2 linked regions of the Homo sapiens genome follow. The protein of the gene in region 2 interacts with the protein of the main gene of each other region in a biochemical or structural test. Each region holds a gene or a part of one and is shown on either strand. Other genes may lie near its edges.

What was found.
Region 1: the proteins of RLF (region 2) and RIT1 form a complex in vitro, tested with the Homo sapiens proteins (one study listed by BioGRID).

The regions. Positions count from the first base shown.
Region 1 is NC_000001.11:155,897,750-155,901,349, reverse strand, and holds the end of RIT1 (GTP-binding protein Rit1), read left to right. Parts: intron 1-731; coding exon 732-962; 3' UTR 963-3,542; downstream 3,543-3,600.
Region 2 is NC_000001.11:40,185,223-40,189,174, reverse strand, and holds part of RLF (zinc finger protein Rlf), read right to left. Parts: intron 121-3,952; coding exon 1-120. UniProt on the Homo sapiens protein: May be involved in transcriptional regulation.

The DNA.
Region 1 (3,600 bases), about 120 Mb from region 2:
TTTTAAAAATTTTGTAAAAGTAGGGTCTCACCATATTGCCCAGCTTGGTCTCAAGTTCCTGGGCTCAAGCAATCCTCCTACCTTAGCCTCCCAAAGTTCTGGAATTACAGGTGTGAGCCACCAAGCCCAGCCTATTTATCTTTCTTAAAATAAAAAGTATGGGGAAAATTAAGATTGTGTATTTGATATCTAAAACTATTCCCTGTTCCAAAAAGTATCTTAAAAATAGACTAGAGACCGGGCACAGTGGCCGACGCCTGTAATCCCAGTACTTTGGGAGGCCGAGGTGGGCAGATCACCTGAGGTCAGGAGTTTACAACCAGCCTGACCAACATGGAGAAACCCCGTCTCTACTAAAAATACAAAATTAGCCAGGTGTGGTGGCGCATGCCTGTAATCTCAGCTACTCAGGAGGCTGAGGCAGGAGAATCACTTGAACCCGGGAGGCCGAGGTTGTGAGCCACAATCATGCCATTGCACTCCAATCTGGGCAACAAGAACGCAACTCTGTCTCAAAAAAAAAAGTAGACTAGAAATAGAATCATATCATTTGAAGGCAGAATAAGAAACCTTAGAAGTAATCTAGCCTAAAATTACAAAAATTAGTGCTGTATGCTTGAACACCTCCAGAATTGAGAAGCTTTCTTTGTGTTAAGGTGGTGGTGCATTCAGGTTTTTGGACAATTTAATTGTTTTTCACTGTTATCTTTTCTCACATTTTGCCCTTAAAGGTCACCAAGGAAGAAGGATTGGCCTTGGCCCGAGAATTCAGCTGTCCCTTTTTTGAGACATCTGCTGCATACCGCTACTATATTGATGATGTTTTCCATGCCCTTGTACGGGAGATACGTAGGAAAGAAAAGGAGGCAGTACTGGCCATGGAGAAAAAATCTAAGCCCAAAAACAGTGTATGGAAGAGGCTAAAATCACCATTCCGGAAGAAGAAAGATTCAGTAACTTGAAGAGAAGATGTGAAGTGTTTATCTGTGAACTGCAGTGCTGTATCAAAGCAGTCCAGTAACCTGCAGTACTGAGTATGGTGCTTGCTCTTTCACTTAACTGATAAGAGGGACATGCCTACTAGGAGTTTTTAATGATGTGGTATTTAAAGTATTGTCTCTTAGTTAAGTATGATTTATTAACCCAGTGGAGCACTGTCTGCTTTTAAATTGTCACATTAGAATTTGTTCTACCAATGTTTTGGGTTCTGTTGCGCTATTAATTAATGTAAATTTGTTTATACCCAGGAGAATATGTATACCATGTGTGTTTGACTAAGTTCACAAGGGAAGTTTTTGGCTCTGCACTCCACATTATCCTTTAATTTCAATTTCCTGGGACTATCCCAGAGAAAGACCTCAGTCTCTTCTATTCACACTATGCTTCCTAGAGACAGAACAAAAATCATGTAGGGAAATTGGGGCTAATGAGATCAGTGCCAAATTTCAGCAGATACCTGTGAGGCTGACACCTGTTGCAGACTATGGAGTGGTGAGATTTGGGAAAGTTGGGCTATATGTTTGCAGGGACTTAAAAAGGTAGGTTCAGAACAGTATTCTCAGTACAAGCTTCGCTTTTCTAAGAAGTACACATTTGGCCCAAATTCACCGGGATAAGTGAGAACAGCCAGAAGCATAAAATGTGATGAAGGTTTCTCCTGGGAACCTTATTTTACTCTTCATTTCAGGGTTTTCTTTTTTTTTTTACCTTCAAAGGTAGACATTTTGGGAATCATAACTGTATTACTAAACGTGTTTAATCAAAATTCATAGTTGGATCAGCCATTGCCTTGTACAGGTTTATTTTTTCCCCACAGACGCACACACCAACACATTTATATTCATTGCTTCCTCCCACTTTGTGCTCTGTAAAAGAGCTACAGCTGGCAAGATGTTTTTTCGGCCCTTCATCACTGATTGCATTTTCCATACAGAAGAGACATCAGGGGTGTGGGTAAAATTGTGTGTGTGCCTCCTTGACGTGGACAATCACTAGACTCAGTGCTCTGAGAAAATCTGCTATTTCTGTTGAATGGGTCAGTCTTAAAGCTTTAAAATTCACATAGGTGGAGTTTCCCATCTGAAGATTTCTTTACAAGGACTTTGCTAAGTTCATCTCAGGGTTATCTGAGCCTTGACCAAGTTTATCCTAAGGGAATACCACTTTGCTCCCTGTGCATAGTTTAGGAACTGTAGTCCTAGGAGGAAACAGCTTTAAATATTGGTAGTGAGTTGTCTAAGATCAGGACTGTTTTGATATCTGACCTTGTTATATGCGGAGAGTAAATGCAAAAATGCTAAGAGTAATGCATCATGTATTGAATATTAAGTGTCACTGAAGCAATGTTTGTGTTGACTAGAAACGTAAGATGACTTGTGTAGCACCTCTTTATAAGCACACAGCTCATCTTAATATTTTCCATTTTTATTAGAGGAAGTAGGACAGAGTTGTGTTTTTCTTTATAAACAAATGATAAACTAGCTTTTTTAAAAAGTGACTGTTAGAACTTTTTTAGCTCTGAGTAGTGGTCCCTTTTTAAACTCCTGGAAACATTTTTGTTACCAAATAAATCATGTTTTATGGTACTCAGCCATCCAAAAGTGAAAGACCTAGCATTTGATTCTGTGCAGGACACAAATCTCACAGGAACTATAGCACTTTGGAAAAGCATCAAAGTAGAAAAGAAATACAGTGCAATTCTATTATGAGAATGTTTTACATTTAAACTGGTTTAGCACCTTTTAAGTTTAAAGCCCATAGCTTCTTATTACTAGTGACCTAGGGAATTGTTATTAACATTAAGAGATATATATATATATATATATATATATTTTTTTTTTTTTTTTTTTTTTTTTTTAAATAGAGATGAGGTTTCACTATGTTGCCCAGGCTGATCTCGAACTCCTAGGCTCAAGCAATCCTCCCAATATGCTGGGATTACAGGCATGAGCCACCACCTGGCCCAAGCAAGAAATTGACACTATATAGTTATTTAAGGTAGTCAGGCAGTAGAAACATTGCCAGAAGGATAGAAAGGAATTTGGATTATATATAAGGAAAATAACAAATCGGTGTTTTTAAGACTATCACTGTCATATATTAGATCCTTGTATTAGTCCATCCATTAATATTAGTTCTATTCGTGGTGCTAGGTAGCTTGACAGGTATGATATGCATAAGTCATAGCTCTATTCTTAGTGTCATAAAGTGTAGCTAATTTATAAGCTCTAAGTAATCAGCTTTATCTAATTTGAGGGCATTAAAATTACTGCCTAGAACTTTGAGAAGAGAAAAATTCAGGGATAAGTTGAAAGGCACTGGAACTGTTCATGTCCATACCAGACCGGTAAATTATAAGATCCAGATGTTAGTGTCTAGAATTAGCTGTTTAGAATTCAGAGGGGACATATGTTTTAACTTTGTCATATATTAGCAAGAATTGGTCTACTGTGATGTTTGGGGAGGAGGAGGGGGGGATAATTTTTTTAATGCACTTGTATGTGAAGACAGTTTGTATGACATAATACAAAACTTTTAAACAACTTGGGCTTTCCTTTGCTTCCCTATCAGTGGGTAGAGTTTTTGGAATCATTGCAAAAG
Region 2 (3,952 bases):
ACATTCAGTAGTTAAGTATGGACGTGCACTGGCAAAGCTTTGGATGGCAAGTCGATATACCTCCAGAAGATACACAATATGTTCTGATGCATTCTTGTTGCTTGCATATTGCAATAAGGTCTACAAAATAAAATTAAAAATTATTTACAAATAAAAATAATGAAACAGATTGTCTTTGTCCTCAAACACACCACATAGCTCTCCCATTTTTTTTCTAACAGATGCATATACCTTTTATTTGCCTTTTAAGGCTCTGGTTTGTTTAGAAGCTTCTATTTTCATCACTTAATGAATGATTTCTGCTGAGTTAAAGAAATGGCAGAACTACTCTTTTGATGTCAGAATAATTCTAAGAGTAGAGCCATAAAATGTCTAGTTGTTCTCACTATAGGTCTGGAGTTGCCATCTCTATAATTCAATAATGAGTTTTCAACCATGTGCCAAGCACTGGGTACATAAGAATAAGACTATGATCCCTGCCTTCTACAACAAGAGATGAATTATTCCTGAATATGACTCTCAGTTCTACAGCACCATAAAATCCTTTTTTTTTTTTCTGGACACATGGAATTGATTAGGCTTCCAAGGGTTAATTTATGCTAACTAATTTCTAAAAGGTTAATGTTATATTGATATTTTTATTTTTCACTAGCCCTGTATCCTCAACAAAATATATATTTATTTTTTATAAAGTTTATGAAGAAAATTACCATATAGGCCAAATGCCAGTTTATTTGGTTACAATGGGGGGAATAGTCCTCTTACCACACAGGGTACCCTATTCCTCATACTGTGGCATCTGAGAAGTTATCTGGTGAGTATTGAATCTAAACCAAAAGAAAATGAAACCACAATAAAGCCTGATAAATTATATGTGTCCTATCACTAAAAATTTGTCCAAATGATGGTGGAAAGCTGGCTTATGTTCTCCCTGGACAGTGTTGAAAAATCACTGCCAAATTCATGTTTGGGGACTCTCCTTCTGAGTTCCATGGAGTTGTTTTCTCTCTTGTTCATATATATCTTCCTTCTGACAACTGATTAGGTTTTGCCTATTCTTAATTGGTATATCTAGTTAAGACGTGAAGTATGTAGTACAGTCTAACATAAGCAGGATACAGCCTTCTCCCTGGAATACACATTCTGTCTGACTGGGCTAGGGAGTTCCTAATAGGCTTTTGGTTGGGGATACTTCTATAGGCAAGTCTTATTTTCAGAGGATAGCTTTAACATGAGTGAAATACATCTTATCTGAATTCATTACCCTAGAATAATGTCTTCAAACATTCCTAACTTCCTGTCTTTGATTTTTCTGCCTAAACAACTACAAATAACTACAATAGTAGCGCAGGATTCTGCTGGATTTTCTGCAGCTTTAGTTTCCACACAAATGGTCCCTGTATGAGTTCTGGTAACTGACTGTTAGCATCATCTTGATTACTTTAACATTTAAAAAAAGAGAGAGAGAGAAACAACTTACAAGGAAATATACCATAGACCATTATACCATATACAGTAAAAGTTCCCTTAACTAATATATTGCATTATCTGATCTTTGCATACCTGAATCATTACAGTCAGTTGAGCTATTTTTAGTATACCGACCTACTCAATTAAGTATCTTGCTACTTGGTCACAGTCACTTTAGATAAATGCCCTTCTGTAATTTCAGAAAAGCAACATGTCACCACTTAATCAAATCCCTAATTTTAATAAAATAAAAAAACTGAGTAACATTATAAAACTGACCCCTAAGCAATCCTGCTTCCCAGCTGAATTAGTAGAGAAAGAATGCAGAATGGGTGTCTGTTACATAACTAAGATTTCACCTAATTTATTAAAATCAGCCAGGTGCTGTGGCTCACGCCTGTAATCCCAGCACTTTGGGAGGCCGAGGCGGACGGATCACAAAGTCAAGAGATCGAGACCATCCTGGCCAACATGGGTGAAACCCCGTCTCTAAAAATACAAATATTAGAGATGGGCGTGGTGGCGCGCGCTTGTAGTCCCAGCTGCTCAGGAGGCTGAGGCAGGAAAATCGCTTGAACCTGGGAGGCGGAGGTTGCAGTGAGCCAAGATTGCGCCACTGCACTCCAGCCTGGCGACACAGCAAGACTGTCTCAAAAAAAAAAACCAAAAAACAAAAAACAAAGAAATTTATTAAAATCTATGTTACAAAAAAATTCTGGTTTAGGTCAGTAAGTTACTTACTGTCTGCATTGGCTAATCTAAGAATTAAGGAGTTTCAAAAATTTATATTTAGTGCCAGATTTATGTTCCTTAAAGTCAGACATTATGTCTCATCAATCCTTATAGGCCTACCACTCCTCTACCCACTTCCACCCCCACAGGACATTCTCAAGTCTCACTAAATGTCTGCTGAATACATTCACCATTTTATTCATTTGACAAATATTTTTCAATAGATTATCACACATAAAGTGCTAGATGCAGTGGGGGCGGGCAGACATGTGGCCTATCCTCACAGAGCTTTCAGAATGAGTCAATACAACATGATGGCTGAAACCACACATGCAAATTAACCAACTGCTAACTAAAGTATGCAAAGAGAAGGACAGAGTGCATACAGATGGGGTTAGTCTTTCCACAATCCACCTGTCCACTTAGAACGCTCTTGCCACCAATCTAATAGCTTCTGACAGACATTCCACCAGGACTTCTGTAAGCTACACAATTTCAAAGATTCAATACTCTTGAGGAACTTCCAGTTTGCTCTATACTAATTTATACTTTTTATATTCCTAAATCTTTACCCCCTCATGTGTTGGTTCAAATTAAGTAGTGAGATCTCTTATACCCACTATAAGCATACTCTGGGTATGTGAAGAATGGCTGGAATAATCAATCTTCTTCATTATCACTTTTTTTTTAAATTGAGATAGAGTCTCATTCTATCACTGCTGGTGATCCTCCCACTTCAGCCTCCCAAGTAGCTGGGACTACAGGCATGAACCACTGTGGCTAGCCAGGCATTTTCTTTCTTTCTTTTTGTTTTTTTAATCAAGTCTCACTCTGTCACCCAGGTTGGGGTGCGGTGGTGAAATCTCGGCTCACTGCAACCTTCACCTCCCAGATTCAAGTGGATCCTTTCACCTCAGGCTCCTGAGTAGCTGGGATTACAACTGTGCGCCACCAGGCTCGGTTAATTTTCCTGTTTTTAGTAGAGATGGGGTTTCACCATTTTGGCCAGGCTGGTCTCGAACTCTTGACCTCAAGTGATCCGCCTGCCTTGGCCTCCCCAAGTGCTGGGATTACAGGCAAAAGCCACCTCGCATCCAGCCTTTGTGGTTTTTTTTTTTTTTTTTTTTTTGCTTTTTTTTTTTTTTTGAGACAGTCTCACTCTGTCAGCCCAGGCTAGAGTGCAGTGGCACGATCTTGGCTCACTGCAAGCTCCACCTCCCAGGTTCACGCCATTCTCCTGCCTCAGCCTCCCAAGTAGCTGGGACTACAGGCACCCGCCACCATGCCCGGCTAATTTTTTTTTTTTTTTTTTTTTTGTATTTTTAGTAGAGACGGGGTTTCACCGTGTTAGCCAGGATGGTCTCGAGCTCCTGACCTCGTGACCTGCCCGCCTCGGCCTCCCAAAGTGCTGGGAGCCACTGCGCCCGGCTTTTTTTTTTTTTTTTTTTTTTTTTTAATGCAAGATTAGGTTGAAAGGATTACAGCCATCCAAATAACAGGATGGCTGTAATCCTTTCAACCTAATCTTGCATTTAAAAAACTGGACTAGGCAAGGTGGCTCACGCCTGTAATCCCAGCACTTTGGGAGGCCGAGGCAGGTGTATCACTTGAGGTCAGGAGTTCAGACCAGCCTGGCCAACATGGTGAAACCCTGTCTCTACTAAAAATACAGAAAGTAGCCGGGCGTGGTGGCGCATGCCTCTAGTCCCAGCTACTTGGGAGGCTGAGGCTGGAGAATTGCTTGAACCCG